Regions from separate parts of the Homo sapiens genome. Here region 2 is linked to region 1. Evidence: fine-mapped expression QTL. A gene starts in region 1. The other region holds a variant in brackets. All regions are shown on one strand. Distances are between the middles of the regions.

Region 1 (8,337 bases):
AACAAGAAAAGTGTACACGGCTCCCGCTAGTACTGGTTTACTCCTGTTGGACCTAGTAAAGAGAAAGCACCTTTGACAATTTTCTAGAGAATGATAGGAGTGGTTCCTATGTCTCACCACACCCAACATAGTCAGTTTTTCCGAAACGAAATACAGTGGGGACTATACAAAATGTTGTGAAGCACCAAGCACTATTAGTCACTGCATGACTAATAGGACAGATCAATTTTAAATTAAAGAAACAAAAGAGATTTCTCTTTCTCATATAAAAAGAAAGAAACAGCTTTCATTCCAGTCAAGGAGTCCTAGATGACCACAGTGAATAATCTGTTACACGGATACTCAGTAATAAATATGGTGTCAATTCAAAGAAAATTAATTATCTACAGAACCAAAAGGTTCAAAAGCACTTAAGTTCAACGTAACGTTATTACTCAACATAGCCTTTTAATGTAATTCAGGTTGTAACTCCAACCTCTAGAGTTGACAGCAGTATTAAAGAGTCATTCAAAGTCATCACCTTAGCCAGACACTGTGGCTCACACCTGTAATCCTAGCACTTTGGGAGGCTGAGGCAGGTGGATGACATGAGGTCAGGAGTTCGACACCAGCCTAGGCAACGTGGCGAAACCTCATCTCTACTAAAAAAATACAAACAATTAGCCGGGTGAGGTGGCACATGCCTGTAGTCCCAGCTACTCGGAAGGCTGAGGCACAAGAATCGCTTGAAGCTGGGAGGCAGAGGTTGCAGCGAGCCAAAATCGTGCCACTGCACTCCAGCCTGGGTGGCAGAGCAAGACTCTATCTCAAAAAAAAAAAAAAGTCATCACCTTTTACGGTATCAACTAAATAGAAGTCACCATCATATGAACTGGTTCAGGACAGCCAAGGATCAAATGAGGCCAACTCATGAAGTTATTTCAGGTGGCTTCCAAGACTGCCGTCCGGAAGAGCTCCTCCACAACAGGACAGTCCTGGAGAACCTGTCCTTCACTGCCCCTATCCCCCACCATTTGCATATGTGCATGCTTGATCTTTGTCAAACATGGCTAACAACCACCTTTTGGTCACATCAGCTACCAGTATCTGACTGTGTCTGCTGGCATTCCCTTCAAGGGTACAGAGCTGGGGTTCTTGATCTGATTCCTATGCATGGACCTCCAGGTGGTATCAGAGGAGTCATGGAGTCAGCAAAGTTCCTAAGAGCCCATGCAAAATTTTATCTCTGTGCACAGGGTCCTGATCCTCAGGGGTTGTGAATCAAGGAAAGCTAAAAACCACTGGTTTAGTGCTACATACAAAACAGGAATCTACTGAAGGTGCCCGTGACACCTGTCATTTGAGGTGCAGAACAAAGGGTGCCATCTATTCAAAGCAAAAGTAAAATATGGGCTGGGCGCGGTGGTTCATGCCTGTAATCCCAGCAGTTTGGGAGGCCGAGGCTGGTGGATCACCTGGGGTTAGGAGTTCGAGTACAGCCTGGCCAACATGATGAAACCCCGTTTGTACTAAAAATACAAAAATTAGCCGGGCGTGATGGCGCGCGCCTGTAATCCCAGCTACTCAGGTGGCTGAGGCAGGGGAATCACTTAAACCCGGGAGGCGGAGGTTGCAGTGAGCCGAGATGGCGCCATTGCACTCCAGCCTGGGCAACAAGAGCGAAACTCCATACCCGCACCCCCCACCCACCAAAAAAAAAAAAGAAAAGAACAAAAGAAAATGTGATATGATGGTCAGAAGCTGTAGTCACTAAGGGTCAGATCGTCCATTCCCTTTATCCCCTAGTCCAGATAAACCAAAGGAGACTCAAGAGAGACTCTGCCCAAGACCACAAATCACAGAGCTACTAAGTGGCAAAGCTGAGCATCAAAGTTCACTGGATTTCCACCAGGATGTCAGGGCATGAAATTATGTTTATACTTTTTTAGAATGGGTTTGACCAAAATCCCCCCAATTCTTGTAAATATCCCACTCCATTAAGAAGGTAGCCTTCCAAAATTTTATTGTATTTTTTTTGAGACGGAGTCTTGCTCTGTTACCCAGGCTGGAGTGCAGTGGTGTGATCTCGGCTCACCGCAACCTCCATCTCCCAGGTTCAAGCAATTCTCCTGCCTCAGCCTCGCTAGTAGCTGGGACTACAGGCGTGTGCCACCACACCTGCCTAATTTTTGTATTTTTTAGTAGAGACGGGGTTTTGCCATGTTGGCCAGGCTGGTCTCGAACTCCTAACCTCAGGTGATCCGCCCACCTCCGCCTCCCAAAGTGCTGGGATTACAGGCGTGAGCCACCACGCCCGGTCTAGCCTTCCAAAATTTTAAAATCAAGCTTCCATATAGAATTTGATACATTTAAATACTCCCCAAATCATCAATCAAGTCACGGATCTTTCACAAAAGTCGCATACAGATTTTTTATTTTATTTTTTTTTTGAGACGGAGTCTCGCACTGTCGCCCAGTCTGGAGTGCAGTGGCACGATCTTGGCTCACTGAAGCCTCCACCTCCCTGGTTCAAGAGATTCTCCTGCCTCAGCCTGTTGAGTAGCTGGGACTATAGGCATGCGCCATCACGCCCGGCTAATTTTTGTATTTTTAGTAAAGACTGGGTTTCACCATATTGGTCAGTCTGGTCTTGAACTCTTGACCTCATGATCCACCCGCCTCAGCCTCCCAAAGTGCTGGGATTATAGGAGTGAGCCACCACGCGCAGCCCAGCATACAGATTTATGAGGTGAACCTTAGAGGCTCATTATCCCCTATCCTATGTTATGAACACAACTTTAAGAAGCAACACAGGGGCCAGGCTCACACTTGTAATCCCAGCACCTTGGGCGGCCGAGGCGAACACGAGGCCGATCACGAGGTCAGGAGTTCGAGACCGGCCTGGCCAACACAGTGAAACCCCATCTCTACTAAAAATACAAAAATTAGCTGGACATGGTGATGGGCGCCTATAATCCCAGCTACTCGGGAGGCTGAAGCAGGAGAATCGCTTGAACCGGGGAGGCGGAGGCTGCAGTGAGCCAAGATTGCGCCACTGCACTCCAGCCTGAGTGACAGAGGTAGACTCCGTCTGAAAAAAAAAAACGCAGCACAGGTCACAAGCTCATTGAGTGAGGCACTTCTAAATGTATCAGGGAAGACAGCCACTGACAGCTGACTTCGGGGTGGATTTGTACAATTTCAATCTGCAAGCTGCAGGACCTTTCTAAGTCTCCCTCTCATGTTAATATCAATAGCGTTGCCTAAACATTAAATGCTTTTTCTTCAACCCAGGTAATGGGGTCATTCATAAATTAAACTGAGAACAACCTTTCCAGTCCCATGTTCACAAACACTACATGTAGTAGAACCAAAGATACTAGGCAATTATTCTGAGATCAGATTAAAAAATAATTACTGTCATAAAAAAGTTACAGAATCATTTGTTCCAATGCCAAACTCTGCCTCAGCATATGAAATTTAAAGTAACCAAAAACTTAGTCTCACCTGGGAAGGGAAATCAAAGTGACATTTGAACCCAAGTTCAATGACAACACGTCCTTCAATTTCAAAGCGAGCGCATTGCTTTATTCATTCAAAGAGTTTTAACGGCACAATATCCCATAGCATACACAAAATCTCCTAAGGCGTACATTATGGTAAAGTTTCTGACTGCTTGTGAACTATATTTAGCCCTTTCTGCCAGCTCTCTCCGTAGTCTCCCACCCCCAAAAGGTATAACTGGAATAGGCCTCAGGGAGCACCTGTGGCCTGAAAAGGCTGTGACCAATCCTCAGAGCTTTACCGGCTGCAATCTACAAGTAGGCTCGACCATTCTATTTTGGATCAAGGAGACTCTGCCAACCCCCAAGTGACCGCAAGTGGACAAGATCAATTTGGGAGAAAACGCTGTGAGGGTTTTTTCGCCAAGCCAGCAGCCCCCACCGCCACACTCCGAAAAGGGTGAAGATTTGGTTACCATCCAGGCGGCGAAAGAATACGGCCGGGCTGTCTGGGGGCTCACGACTGCCTGTCGGCCGGCGATCCCGCAGCCTGGGCCGGGCTGTGGTGTCGGGAGCACGCGAAGAGGCAGGGATCCCCGGGGCATGCGGAGAGGGAACCAGAACGAGGTTAGGAGCCTGCAGGTGTCGCCCAGGGAGGGGACGAGGTCGCCCAGGGCTGGCACGGCCGAGTGAGACCGAGAGTGTGGCTCTGGACTCGGACAGACCGGTCACACTCTCGGGTTGTGACCTTGAGCACACGACTTGACCGCTGTGCGCCTTAGTTTCCTCCTCTCTAAAATGGGGGTCGTTCAAGCGGAAAACGCGCCTCGGAGCGCTTGGCACGGCGCCTGGCGCATAGTAAGCGCTCCCTCCATGTGAGCGCTCTGGCTCCTTTCGCCGCCGGGAGGAACTGGGGAAGCCCCGCGCGGGGAGTCCCCGGGAGGCGGATCCGAGGCTGGGGCAAGGGAACCGGGTCGGGGACTCACCGAGCACGTCCGCGGAACGGTGCCGGGCCACGAAGCACGCGTCGTCCCCGTAGCACGCGCCCTTCTTGAGGAGGCCCTTACGGAAGTCCTTCCCGAAGCCGCAGCCGGCCGTCACCAGTCCGTAGTCGCCGCCGCCGCCGCCGCCGGCCCTGGGGTCGGTCTGCGAGAGGCCGCCGAGCACGGCGCGGGCCACCAGCCGCCCGTACGAGAGGACCGAGAACATCGCCGCCGCCGCCCCCCCGAGGAGGCGGGGGGCCGGGGGAGCAGGAGGACGCGGAGGCCCGGAGCCGGCTCTCTCCTCAGCCGCAGTCGCGCCGCCGCTGGGGCGCTCCTCAGGGCGGCGCGCAGTGGCCGCCGCCGCCCCTGCCCGACGCGCGGGGCCTCGCACGCGCTCAGCCGCGCGCACCGGAGCCAGAGCGAGGTCAGAAGCGGCGGCTCCTCCGCCTCAGCCCAACTGAAGTCCCGGCTGCAGCGGCCGCCGCCGCCGCCGCCATCTTCCGCTCCACTAGCGTGTTCCGGGCGGTGCCGGCAGCACCGCCCCCTCCCTGGCCCTGCCCCTAGCCCCGCCCCGATTCACCGCTCAGGCCCAAGCCCAGCCCCTTGGGCTCGCTGCCTTATGCAGTCACCAAGGTTGAACATGCGCAGAGGGTGCGGACGCAGTGTCTCTTGGGAATTATAGTCCCGGAGTCGTAGTCACTTTTGACTTGGCTGCCAAAGATTTAGGACCTAGGGGGATTCCTCAGACGCGGGACCTATGTTAAGTTAGTAGGAATTGCAGGTGGGCCACGTGAGGGTTTTCTACCCTGTTTTAACCGTATCTTTTAAAGCCTGTTTTAAATAAATAACGCCACCATTCCTTTAAACAAAAACCTGCAAGAAACCAGAATGGAGTCACATAATGAGAAACAGAGGTACACAGATCTAGTGACACCTCCCCAAGTAATATACTGGAAGGATTTAGGGCGGCAAACTGTTTGGAAAGAAGAGACTTTTTGTAGTCTTTTAGGAAAAATTGAGAAAATGTTATGTGTCCCTATCAGAGTGGGAGGGGACACAGATGGTGTCATGTCCCTTTTGCTAACTGGCCTCTAGCCATGCTCACAGCTGTCTCAAGACCTTTGCCCTTGCTTTCGCTTCTACCCTTTGGAATGTAATTCGTTTACCTGAGGGTCCTGTGTTTTCTGTTGCTGTATCCCCAGAACACGTGAGCACCCAGTAAATATGTGAATGAATGAAAGAATGAATGAATATTTCACTAGATTCTAAGTTTCCCAAGGACAAGGATCATTTGCTGCTCAATTATTAGAATCTAAAGCAATGCCTGGCACACAGTAGGAGAGTGTGTAAATGTCTGTGGAATAAAAGAAGGAATAATGGGCTGGGCGTGGTGGCTCACACCTGTAATCCCAGCACTTTGGAAGGCCGAGGTGGGCAGATCACTTGAGGTCAGGAGTTCAACACCAGCCTGGCCAACATGGTCTCTACTGAAAATACAAAAAAAAATTAGCTGGGCTTGGTGACAAACGATTGTAATGCCAGCTACTCAGGAGGCTGAGACAGGAGAATCGCTTGAACCTGGGAGGCAGAGGTTGCAGTGAGCCGAGACAGCGCCACTGCATTCCAGCCTGGGAGACAGAGCTGGACTCCATCTCAAAAAAAAAAAAAGGAAGGAGTAATGGAATAAGAACACAAATGATAAAAGAAAGTCATGTTTGTTGAATACAGGAATGATTGAGTGAATGGGGTTCACAAACAACAGAAAATGAGCTTTGGGGCAAGTAATTCAATTTAGAGTAATTTTTAGTTTGATTGAAACATATATTTCTCAGAAACAGCAGTCTTTTTCTAGTTCACTTTTAACAAGACCATTGTTACTTTGGGGATTCCCACCTCGTTTTTAAATGGTCCTTTTTTATGCTTTCTTAATATATTTAAAATGCTGCCAACTATCAACTCAACACATATTATTCCGTTATCCTAATTACTGTCATCATTAAACACTTTTGCAGTTCACAGTGTGCCAAGTACTGTCTATATATATGTTTCTGTCTTTAAGAGCTTTCATCAAAATTGGACGGAAGAAATGACTTCACGTAGTGGCATTTTGTCAAATATACAGAACCCAGAAAATGTTCATTTACTGGATAAATGGTATAGTAATGACAATAATGCATTCACACCTTCCTTTTTTTTAATGGCACAAGAATTGGAGAGTGCCCAGAAGAGGGGGTAGTGCCTCTCGGAATCCTCTACTTGGCATTTATATTGCTGCCAGCTGTGCTAAAGGTAGCTCTTTCAAGTACACATACCACTACCAGATCCCAGTCAGTCTGGCAGGTAATTCTACCCCAAGGACAAACTTTTTAAAATAGCATGTCAACCCTATTTCTTGCCTCGTCAAACTCCTTCAGACTGCTCCTACTTTTCCTTTTCAGGGCATATATTACCTAATTTCCATGTCAGTCACAAGAACTGGTTTGATGGGATGAGTAGGAACCTAAAATGTGACTCTAAAGCCAGTAACTTCTGCTCCGATGGGGCTGCTGTTTTCATGATTAAGTGATACCAGTGCCTTGAGTTTCCGGCAAATGAATTTCCTGCAAGTGAGTTTCCTGCAAATGAGTTGCCCACAGAAGCACGTGGCGAACAGAATCCTTCTCAAAGCTCCTTTGCAAGTTTTAAAGGAACAGGAGATAGGGCCTCGGGTTCTCTTGAATCATTTATTCCAGAGCCAGCTCTGAAGTTTCATCACCATGGGGGAAGCCAGGAGAGGGTACTTTACAAAACACCTCCCTTCCCGTTCCTTCTCCCAGGAACACAATTCACGTTTGACATTTTGTTGGACTTAAAAAGGCCTGGATTTTCTTCCTTAACAGAGTTACATTCCTAGCACTTCAGGGATTCCTGAGAGGTCAGTTGCCACTCTTAAAGGTGAACAAGTGTGGTGAAAATACCATCTGGGCTCCCAGGGCACCTCTATGACATTAGGAAAGAGCTTTGCACTAAAGTCAGCCTCCGCTCCTAAAAAAACCAAACAAACAACAACAACAAAAAGAAGGCATGACATTTCCTAGTGAGATTTTCTGCCAGACTGGTAGGTTGATCTCTTTGGGTTCCTTTTTGCTAACCTATTCACAATGAGCACTAATTAGCTTACAGCAAGGTGTCTCAAGCTTGACACTATTGACATTTTGGGCAGGATGATTCTTTGCTGTTAGGGCTGTCCTGTGCATGCGTTGGAGGGGGCTTAGCAGCATCCCTGGCCTCTACCCACTAGAAGCCAGAAGCATGCCACCTCTGTGCCCCCAGGACAACCAAAACTGTCTCCAGATATTGCCAAATGTCCCCTGGGGGGCAAAATTGCTCCCTGATTTAGAGCCACTGTATTACGGCAATGCCATGCAAATGAGCAAATATTTGTTGAGCACTTATTATGTTCAAGTCTCTAGGCTAAGGATAAAAAAAATCAGTGATTTTGTGGCAGTCACAGTGCAGTAGGAAGGTTAAAATTAAGTAAATGTATTAAAATAATAATAACAGACTGGGTGCGGTGGCTAATGCCTGTAATCCCAGCACTTTGGGAGGCCGAGTGGGGGGTGGATCACTTGAGGTCAGAAGTTCGAGACCAGCCTGGCCAACATGGCGAAACCCTGGGTCTACTAAAAATACAAAAATTAGCTGGGAATGGTGGTGCACGCCTGTGATCCCAGCTAGTTGGGAGGCTAAGGCAGGAGAATCACTTGAACCCGGGAAGTAGAGGTTGCAATAGGCCAAGATCACGCCACTGCACTCCAGCTGGGGCAACAGAGCAAGGCTCTGGCTCAAAGTAAATAAATAAAATAATAATAAGCACCACAAGCTGAAATAAA
Region 2 (8,337 bases), 280 kb before region 1:
GGCTCTGTTTTTCTTTAATTTTTATTTTTATTACTATTATTATTATTATTATTATTATTACTATTTTGAGACAGGGTCTCACTCTGCTGTGCAGGCTGGAATGCAGTAGCGTGATCTCGGTTCACTGCAACCTCTGCCTGCCTGTTCAAGTGATTCTTGTGCCTCAGCCTCCCAATTAGCTGGGCTCACCAGCATGCACCACCACACCCAGCTGATTTTTGTAGTTGTAGTAGAGATGGGGTTTTGCCATATTGGCCAGGCTGGTCTCAAACTCCTGGCCTCGTGACCCACTCACCTCGGCCTCCCAAAGTGCTGGGATTACAGGCGTGAGCCACCGTGCCTGGCCTATTATTATTTTAGTTAAGCCCAGCTGTGTGAGACATTGGGCTCTTAAGTGCTGCTTGCTTTCGTCTTAAATTGTGACCTTTTTAACTGAGTAATGCAGAACAGACATCTAGGTTTAGAATGTATGTGGGCATTTTATTAAATACTGTTGTCATACTACTAGGCAGTGAGCACCTTAAGGACAGAACTGTCATATTGACTGTTGTAACGTTATCGTAAGTTCTCTATGAATGAAATTTGAAATCAGAAGTATATGATAGGCTCAGCTAATGTAAACATAGTTGCTGTGCAGAACAAACAGTTGAAGTGTATGTGTGTGTTCAATACAATTATTATTATAATATTATACAGACAGAGTCTTGTTCTGTCACCCAGGCTCTAGTGCAGTGGTGTGATCTCGGCTCACTGCAACCTGTGTACCTCCCAGTTTCAAGTGATTCTCCTGCTTCAGTCTCCCGAGTAGCTGGGATTACAGGCTTGGGCCATTATGCCTGGCTTGCTTGCTTTTTTGTTTGTTTGTTTGTTTGTTTGTTTTGAGACGAGTCTCGCTCTGTTGCCAGGCTGGAGTGCAGTGGCATGATCTTGGCTCACTGCAACCTCCGACTCCCTGGTTCAAGCGATTCTCCTGCCTCAGCCTCCCGAGTAGCTGAGATTATAGGCACGTACCACCACGCCCAGCTAATTTTTGTATTTTTTAGTAGAGACGGGGTTTCACCGTGTTGGCCAGGATGGTCTCAAGCCCCTGACCTCGTGATCCATCCTCCTCGGCCTCCCAAAGTGCTGGGATTGATTACAGGCATGAGCCACCGCGCCCAGCCACGCCTGGCTAATATTTTTGTATTTTTAGTAGAGGCAGAGTTTGGCCATGTTGGCCCGGCAAGTCTTGAATTTCTGGCCTCAAGCGATCCACCTGCCTCAGCCTCCCAAAGTGCTGGGATTACAGGCGTGAGCCACTGCACCTGGCCTTCAATACAATTATTGAATGCCAGATTATTAGTATATTCAAGGTCTGTGTGATCCTCATTATTATCTTAATTCCAGAACATTTTCATCACCCTCAGAAAAACCCATACCCATTAGCAGTTGTTGCCCTGTTTTCCTCCCACCAGTTCCTGACAACCACAGTTTATTATCTGTTTTGTGGATTACTGTCTGTTTTTCTGGATATTGCATATAAATGGAGTCAATCTTGGTGACTGGCTTTCTCTTAGCATAGTGTTACATTTCGTTCATGAATATAGCATGTATTTCATTCCTTACTGCTGAATAATGTTTATTAGTTGATGGACATTTGGGTTGTTTCCAGTTTTGGTCTATTATGAGTAATGAATAGTGCTATAACTTGTACATACATGCTTGTACTAATTTTTGTGTGAACATAACATTTTCTCTCTGTTAGGTATGTACCTAAGCATGGAATTATGGGGCCTATAGTGACTCTATACTTAACATTTTGAGCAGCTACCAAACTGTCTTTCAGAATGGTGGTGATATTGTTCTACATTCCCACCAACAATGTATACAAGTTCCAGTTTCTCTACATCCTTGTCAAGACATGTCATTGTCTATCGTTTTAAAGTTTTACCCAGGAAGTGAGTATCATTGTGGTTTTGACGTCCGTTTCCCTAATTTCTTAATGATGTTGGGCATCTTTTCATGTGGCTATTGTCCATCGGTGTGTTTTCTTTGGAGAAATGCCTGTTTAAATTAGGTTATTTGTCTTTTTAATGTTGAGGTATAAGAATTCTTTACATATCCTGCCTTATGAGGTGTGATTAGCAAAATTTTTTCCCCATTCTATAGGGATTCCTTTTTTTCACTTTCTTGATGGCATACTTTGTAACATACAAGTTTTTAATATGATAAAGTCCACTTATACATTGTTGTTGCTTGTGCTTTTGGTGTGATGTCTAAGAAACTGTTGCCAATTGAAGGTCACAAAGACTTTATATATTAGCCAGTATATATGATCCAGGCGTCGTGGCTCATACCTATATGATCCCAGCACTTTGGGAGGCTGAGGCAGGAAAAACCACTTTTTTTTTTCTTTTTGAGACGGAGTCTTGCTCTGTTGTCCAGGCTGGAGTGCAGCGAGTGGCATGATCTCGGCTCAGTGCAACCTCCGCCTCCTGGGTTCAAGCGATTCTCCCGCCTCAGTCTCCCGAGTAGCTGGGATTACAGGTGCACACCACCACACTCAGCTAATTTTTGTATTTTTAGTAGAAACGGGGTTTCACCGTTTTGGCCAGGCTGGTCTTGAACTCCTGACTTCAAATGATCCGCCTGCCTCAGCCTCTCAAAGTGCTGCGATTATAGGCAAGAGCCACCATGCCCAGCCTAGGAAAAAAACACTTTTAAATTAGCCAGGCAAGGTGGTACAGGCCTGTAGTCTCACTACTCAGGAGGCAGAGGTACGAAGATGACTTGAGCCCAAGAGTGGAGGCTGCAGTGAGCTACTATGATCCTGCCACTGTCCTCCACCCTAGGCAACAAAGCAAGACCTTGCCTCTTTAAAAACAGCAACAACAGCAAAAACTATGGTGTGAGGTAGGAGATCCAGCTGCTTTCTTTTGCATGTGGATATTTAGTTGTCTCAGCACCATTTGTTGAAAAGATTTCTTCACTAATTTGTCCTGCAACCTTTGTGAAAAATTAATTTACAAATGCAAGAATGTATTTCTAGACTCTATTCTTACTCCATTGATCTCTGTCTTTAGGTCAGTACCATACTGTCTTGATAGCTAGCTGTCGTTTTGTATTTTTTGAAATTGGGAACTTGGGAGTGTAACTTTGTTCAAGATAATTTTGGGCATTCTGGGTTCCTTACATTTACATATAAATTTTTAAGAGTTGCTTGTCAATTTCTGCAGAAAGCAAGCTGGTATTTTCAGTAAGAATTGTGTTGTATCTATAGATGAGTTTGGGAAATATGGTCGTAATATCAAGTCTTTGGATCCATGAGCATAGGGATGTCTGTTTTTTTTTTGTTTTTTTTTTTTAAGGTCTGTCATTTCTTTCAACACTGGTTGTCAGTGTTCAAGTCTTGTGCTTCTTTTGTTATTGCATTTTTGGCGGGGGGAATATTTGTAATTGGAATAATTTTTTGTAACTTGAAATTGGCCTATTGGTGATATTTATTTATTTATTTATTTTTGAGACGGAGTCTCGCTCTTTCACCGCTATGACAGGCTGGAGTGCAGTGGCACGATCTCTGCTCACTGCAAGCTCCGCCTCTCGGGTTCACGCCATTCTCCTGCCTCAGCCTCCCCAGTAGCTGGGACCA[G/C]AGGCGCCTGCCACCATGCCCAGCTAATGTTTTTGTATTTTTAGTAGAGACAGGGTTTCACCATGTTAGCCAGGATGGTCTCGATCTCCTGACCTCGTGATCCACCCGCCTTGGCCTCCCAAAGTACTGGGATTACAGGCGTGAGCCACCGCGCCCGGCCTAGTGATATTTATTTTTAATTAAAATTTTTAGATTCAAGGTACATGTGCAGGTTTGTTATGTGGATTTAATGTGTGATGCTGAGGTTTGGGCTTCTGCTGATCCTGTCATCCAGATGATGAGTATAGATGATGAGTATAGTACTTCACAGATAGTTTTTCAGCCCTCGCCCCTCTTTCCCTCCCACTTTTTGGAGTGCCCAGTGTTTATTGTTCCCATCTTAATGGCTATGTGTACTCAGTGTTTAGCTCCTACTTACAAGTGAGAACAGACAGTATTTGGTTTTCTGGGTTAACTCACTTAGGATAATAGTCTCTGGCTGCATCCATTTTGCTGGAAAAGACATGATTTCATTCTTTTGCATGGCTGCGTAGTATCACATGGTGTATATATACCACATTTATTTTTGAGATAGGGTCTCACTCTGTCGCCCAGGCTGGAGTGCAGTGGTGCGATTTTGGCTCAGTGCAACCTCCACCTCCCAAGCTCAAGCCATCCTCCCACTTCAGCCTCCTTGTGAGTTCAGGCCATCCTCCCACCTCAGCCTCCTTGTAGCTGGAACTACAGATGCCCACCACGCCCAACTAATTTTTGTATTTTTCGTACAGATAAGGTCTCACCATGTTGCCCAGGCTGGTCTCGAATTCCTGGGCTCAAGTGATTCACCCACCTTGGCCTCCGAAAGTGCTGAGATTACAGGTGTGAGCCACCACGCCCGGCCACAATTTCTTTTTCTTGGGATATATACCCAGTAATGGGATCGCTGGGTTGAATGGTCATTCTGTTTTTAGTTTCTTGAGAAATCTCCAAACAGCTTTCCACGGGGGCTGAACTAGTTTACATTCTTGCCAGCAGTGTATAAGTGTTCCCCCCAGCCCCACCACCTTTTTTTTTTTTTTTTTCTTTTTTTTTGAGGCAGGATCTCAGTCTGTTGCCCAGGCTGGAACACAGTGGCATGATTATAGCTCATTGAGCCATGGCTTTCCAGGCTCTAGTGACCCTCCCACCTGAGCCTTCCAGGTTAGCTGGGACTGTAGGCACACACCACTATGACAGGCTCATTTTTAAATTTTTTCGTAGAGATGAGGTCTTACTATGTTGCCCTGGCTAGTAGTTGAATTCCTGGGCTCCAGTGATCCTCCCACCTCAGCTTCCCAAAGTGCTGGGATTACAAGCGTGAGCCACCGTGCCCAGCAATAATAGTCACTCTGACTGGTGTGAGATGACATCTCATTGTGGTTTTGATTTGCATCTCTCTACTAGTGATGTTGAGCATTTTTTCCTATGTTGACTACTTGATTGTTGTCTTTTGAGAAGTGTCTTTTCATACCCTTTGCCCACTTTTCAACAGTGATTTTGTGTGTGTGTTTGTGTGTGGATTTAAGTTCCTTATAGATTCTGGATATTAGTCCTTTGTTGAGTGCATAGTTTGCAATTATTTTCTCCAATTCTGTAGGTTGTCAGTTTACTCTGTTGATAGATTTCTTCTGCTGTGCAGAAACTCTTTCGTTTAACTAGGTCCCAATTGTCAAGTTATTTGTTGCATTTGCTTTTGAGGCTTAGTCATAAATTCTTTGCTTAGGGCAGTGTTGAGAAGAGTATTTCCTAGGTTTTCTTCTAGGATATTTACAGTTTGAGGCCTTACATTTAAGTCTTTAATTTGCCTTGAGTTAGGAATTCTTTTTTCAATTTCATTTTCAGATTGTTCTTTGCTAGCGTGTAGAAATAGTTTTTTACGTATTGATCTTGTAGTTTGCCATCTTGCTGAACTCATTAGTTAGTTTTAATAGTTTTTATGGGTTCCTTAAGATTTTCTATATACAAGATCATGCATTTGCAAATGAAAATGTTTTTACTTCTTTCTAGTCTGGATGCCCTTTATTTCTTGCCTAATTGCCCTGGTTAGAATCTCCAATACAACGTTGAAGTACCAAGAGCAGACATCCTTGTCTTACTGATCGTAGGGGAAAGCATCCAGTCCTTCACAGTGAAGTGTGACATAGGTGTGGGTCTCATAGGCGGGTGCCCTTTATCATGTTGAGGAAGCCTAGTTACAGCTGTAATATTTAGGTTGTCAGTATACTCTGGTGACCTTTCATGGTGTTTGTAAACTTATATGCAAATCAGAAATGATAGTTTGCTGGGTTACTAGGACCAGCAGGTCATTGAATTGGGTAAGATATAATTCTAAGGCATTTGCAACTATTATATGGAACATTTTGGAAAAGCATACCGTGACTGTATAACCTGGGCCAGATAAATAGGTATTTATTTTATTAAGACTATACACGTTGAGCCTTTTAAACTTCCACCTCTTTTAGAATTAGTAATCAAATTGACTGTGCAATCTAGCATTTAGCCTGATAATTCAGTTTTGTGAAAACTATAGAGTGAACTTTAATTCTGAATTTTTTCTTGTCAGTCGAAGGTACTATTTGCGTAGCCTGAAAGATTAAATGGCATAAATTGTGCTTTTAGACATGGTGACTTTTATATTTTCATTTACATTATGAAATTGGATGTGAAGGGGTTTTTCAGATGTGTTGGAAAACTGGAGAGTGTTGTAAACTAATTCGAAGCTGAAAATAAAAAAGTACTGACTTAACGATTTTGATATTTGCAGAAAGGAACAGACCTTTTTGTAGTCACTGTTTGGAATGTAAGGGTCATCTCCTGACTTTAAAATTCTTTGTCAGCTTTTGGAAGATATCTGGTAGGATGGTTCTGGCTGAACTTTTCAAAGACTAAGCTGGAATAGGTGGTTTTTTGAGGGAGATATGGAGAGAGAGTTTAAGGAAACTAATTTTTTTTTTTTTTTTTTTTTTTTTTTTTTTTTTTGAGATGGAATCTCACTCTGTCGCCCAGGCAGGAGTGCAAGGGCGTGATCTCAGCTCACTGCAACCTCCGCCTCCTGGGTTCAAGCGATTCTCCTGCCTCAGCCTCCCTAGTAGCAGGGATTACAAGTGCCCGCCACCACACCCGGCTAATTTTTGTATTTTTAGTAGAGACAGGGTTTCACCATGTTGGCCAGGCTGGTCTCGAACTCCTGGCCTCAAGTGATCCGCCCGCCTCAGCCTCCCAAAGTGCTGGAATTACAGGTGTGAGCCACCATGCCCAGCCAGGAAACTAAATTTTATATGTTGCTATACCAGCTAATCATTCCAAAGAGAAACTGGGTAAGCATACATAGCAAATGCTAATGTGAGTCTTAAGTATCTAGAACACAAGAGCCAAATGAAATTGATATGGCAAATAAAAACATGGAGAAAATAACCCGCACATAGGCTGTGCTCAGTGGCTCATGCCTGTAATCTCAGCACTTTTGGGGGAGGCCAAGGCATGCAGATCACTTGAGTCCAGGAGTTTGAGACCAGCCTGGGCAACATAGTAAAACCCCATCCCTACAAAAAATACAAAAATTAGCTAGGCGTGGTGGTGCGTACCTGTAGTCCCAACGACTTGAAAAGCTGAGGTGGGAGGATCACCTGAGCCCAGGAGGTCGAGGCTGTGGCAGTGAGCTGAAATTAAGCCACTGCACTCCAGCGTGGGCAACAGAGTGAGACCCTGACTCAAAAAAAAAAAAAAGAGAAAGTGACCCACATGTTCACCTCTTAAGAAGCCACAGTAATTCTACATTATCTTAAGGCCAAGAAAATATTTCTCCGGATGGATGGAAACCAAAAGTAGTGAAGTTGTACATAATCTTATAAGAAATGAACGTCATTGTTTTTAAGCTTTCTGTATTATCTGCTGACATGAAAGTGAATCAAGCTATAATAGCCTAAGTCATTTCTGTTTTCTTTTTTTCTTTTTCCTTTTTTTTTTTTAAAGTAGAGACGGGATTTTACCATGTTGGCCAGGCTGGTCTCGAACTCCTGACCTCAAGTGATCTGCCTCCCTTGGCCTCCCAAAGTGCTGGGATTACAGGCATGAACCACCGTGCCCGGCCATGGTTTTGTGGGATGTTTTTTTGAGACAAGGTCTCCCTGTATTACCCAGCCTAGTCTCAAACTCCTGGGCTCAAGGGATCCTCTTCCCTTGGCCTCCCAAAGTGCTGGGATTACAGGCATGAGCCACCATTCCCAGCTAGAAGTCTTAGTTTTAGAATTTTGGGGCTTCTAGTATATGCCGCAGGGGTTATTTATTGACTTCTTAAGAACACTGTTTTCAGGGTTGTTTAAAACAAACTTTATGTATCTTGGTAACCCAGGGTTGATGAATAGCACCAGGAAATAAATATTCTCAGATGACTTCTGTCTTGTAGTATATACTCTGGAGCGAATCATCTTTTAAGATTTAAGTAGTGGAAGCAACACAATCTTAAAATTGCATTTGCTTTAGCACTTGTACAGAAATTGATAATTTTATTTCCTAAAATGAAGACTTAATAGCCAACAGGGTGCCAGCAATTTCAAGATTTACTCGGGAATAAAAAGAATAATTCTTAAACTTGACAGCAATTTAAAGGAAGAAAACTTTCAATTTAAAGGAAGGAAACTTTTACTTCAGACAGTTAACATGCAGTACTGAGATTTAGTAGCAGGTATAAA

What was found. PIP is the estimated chance that this variant, and not a neighbour inherited with it, causes the effect. A credible set is the group of variants that fine-mapping cannot tell apart.
Region 2: its variant is the best candidate, but not a certain one, in a credible set for the expression of PPTC7 in blood mononuclear cells (TOPMed, PIP 0.66).

Annotation. Positions count from the first base shown.
Region 1 is chr12:110,578,341-110,586,677 of GRCh38, forward strand. It overlaps PPTC7 (protein phosphatase targeting COQ7), which reads right to left and starts at 4,978. Exons shown (of 6, transcript NM_139283.2): 1 at 4,469-4,978. The coding sequence starts at 4,691. RefSeq lists an enhancer at 1,314-1,563 and silencers at 4,611-4,760, 4,801-5,130.
Region 2 is chr12:110,302,551-110,310,887 of GRCh38, forward strand. The region is part of intron 5 of ATP2A2 (ATPase sarcoplasmic/endoplasmic reticulum Ca2+ transporting 2); the gene reads left to right. Among named protein-coding and RNA genes, the nearest start is that of ATP2A2, 25 kb to the left of the region's middle. The variant G/C (reference allele first, on the strand shown) is at 3,629.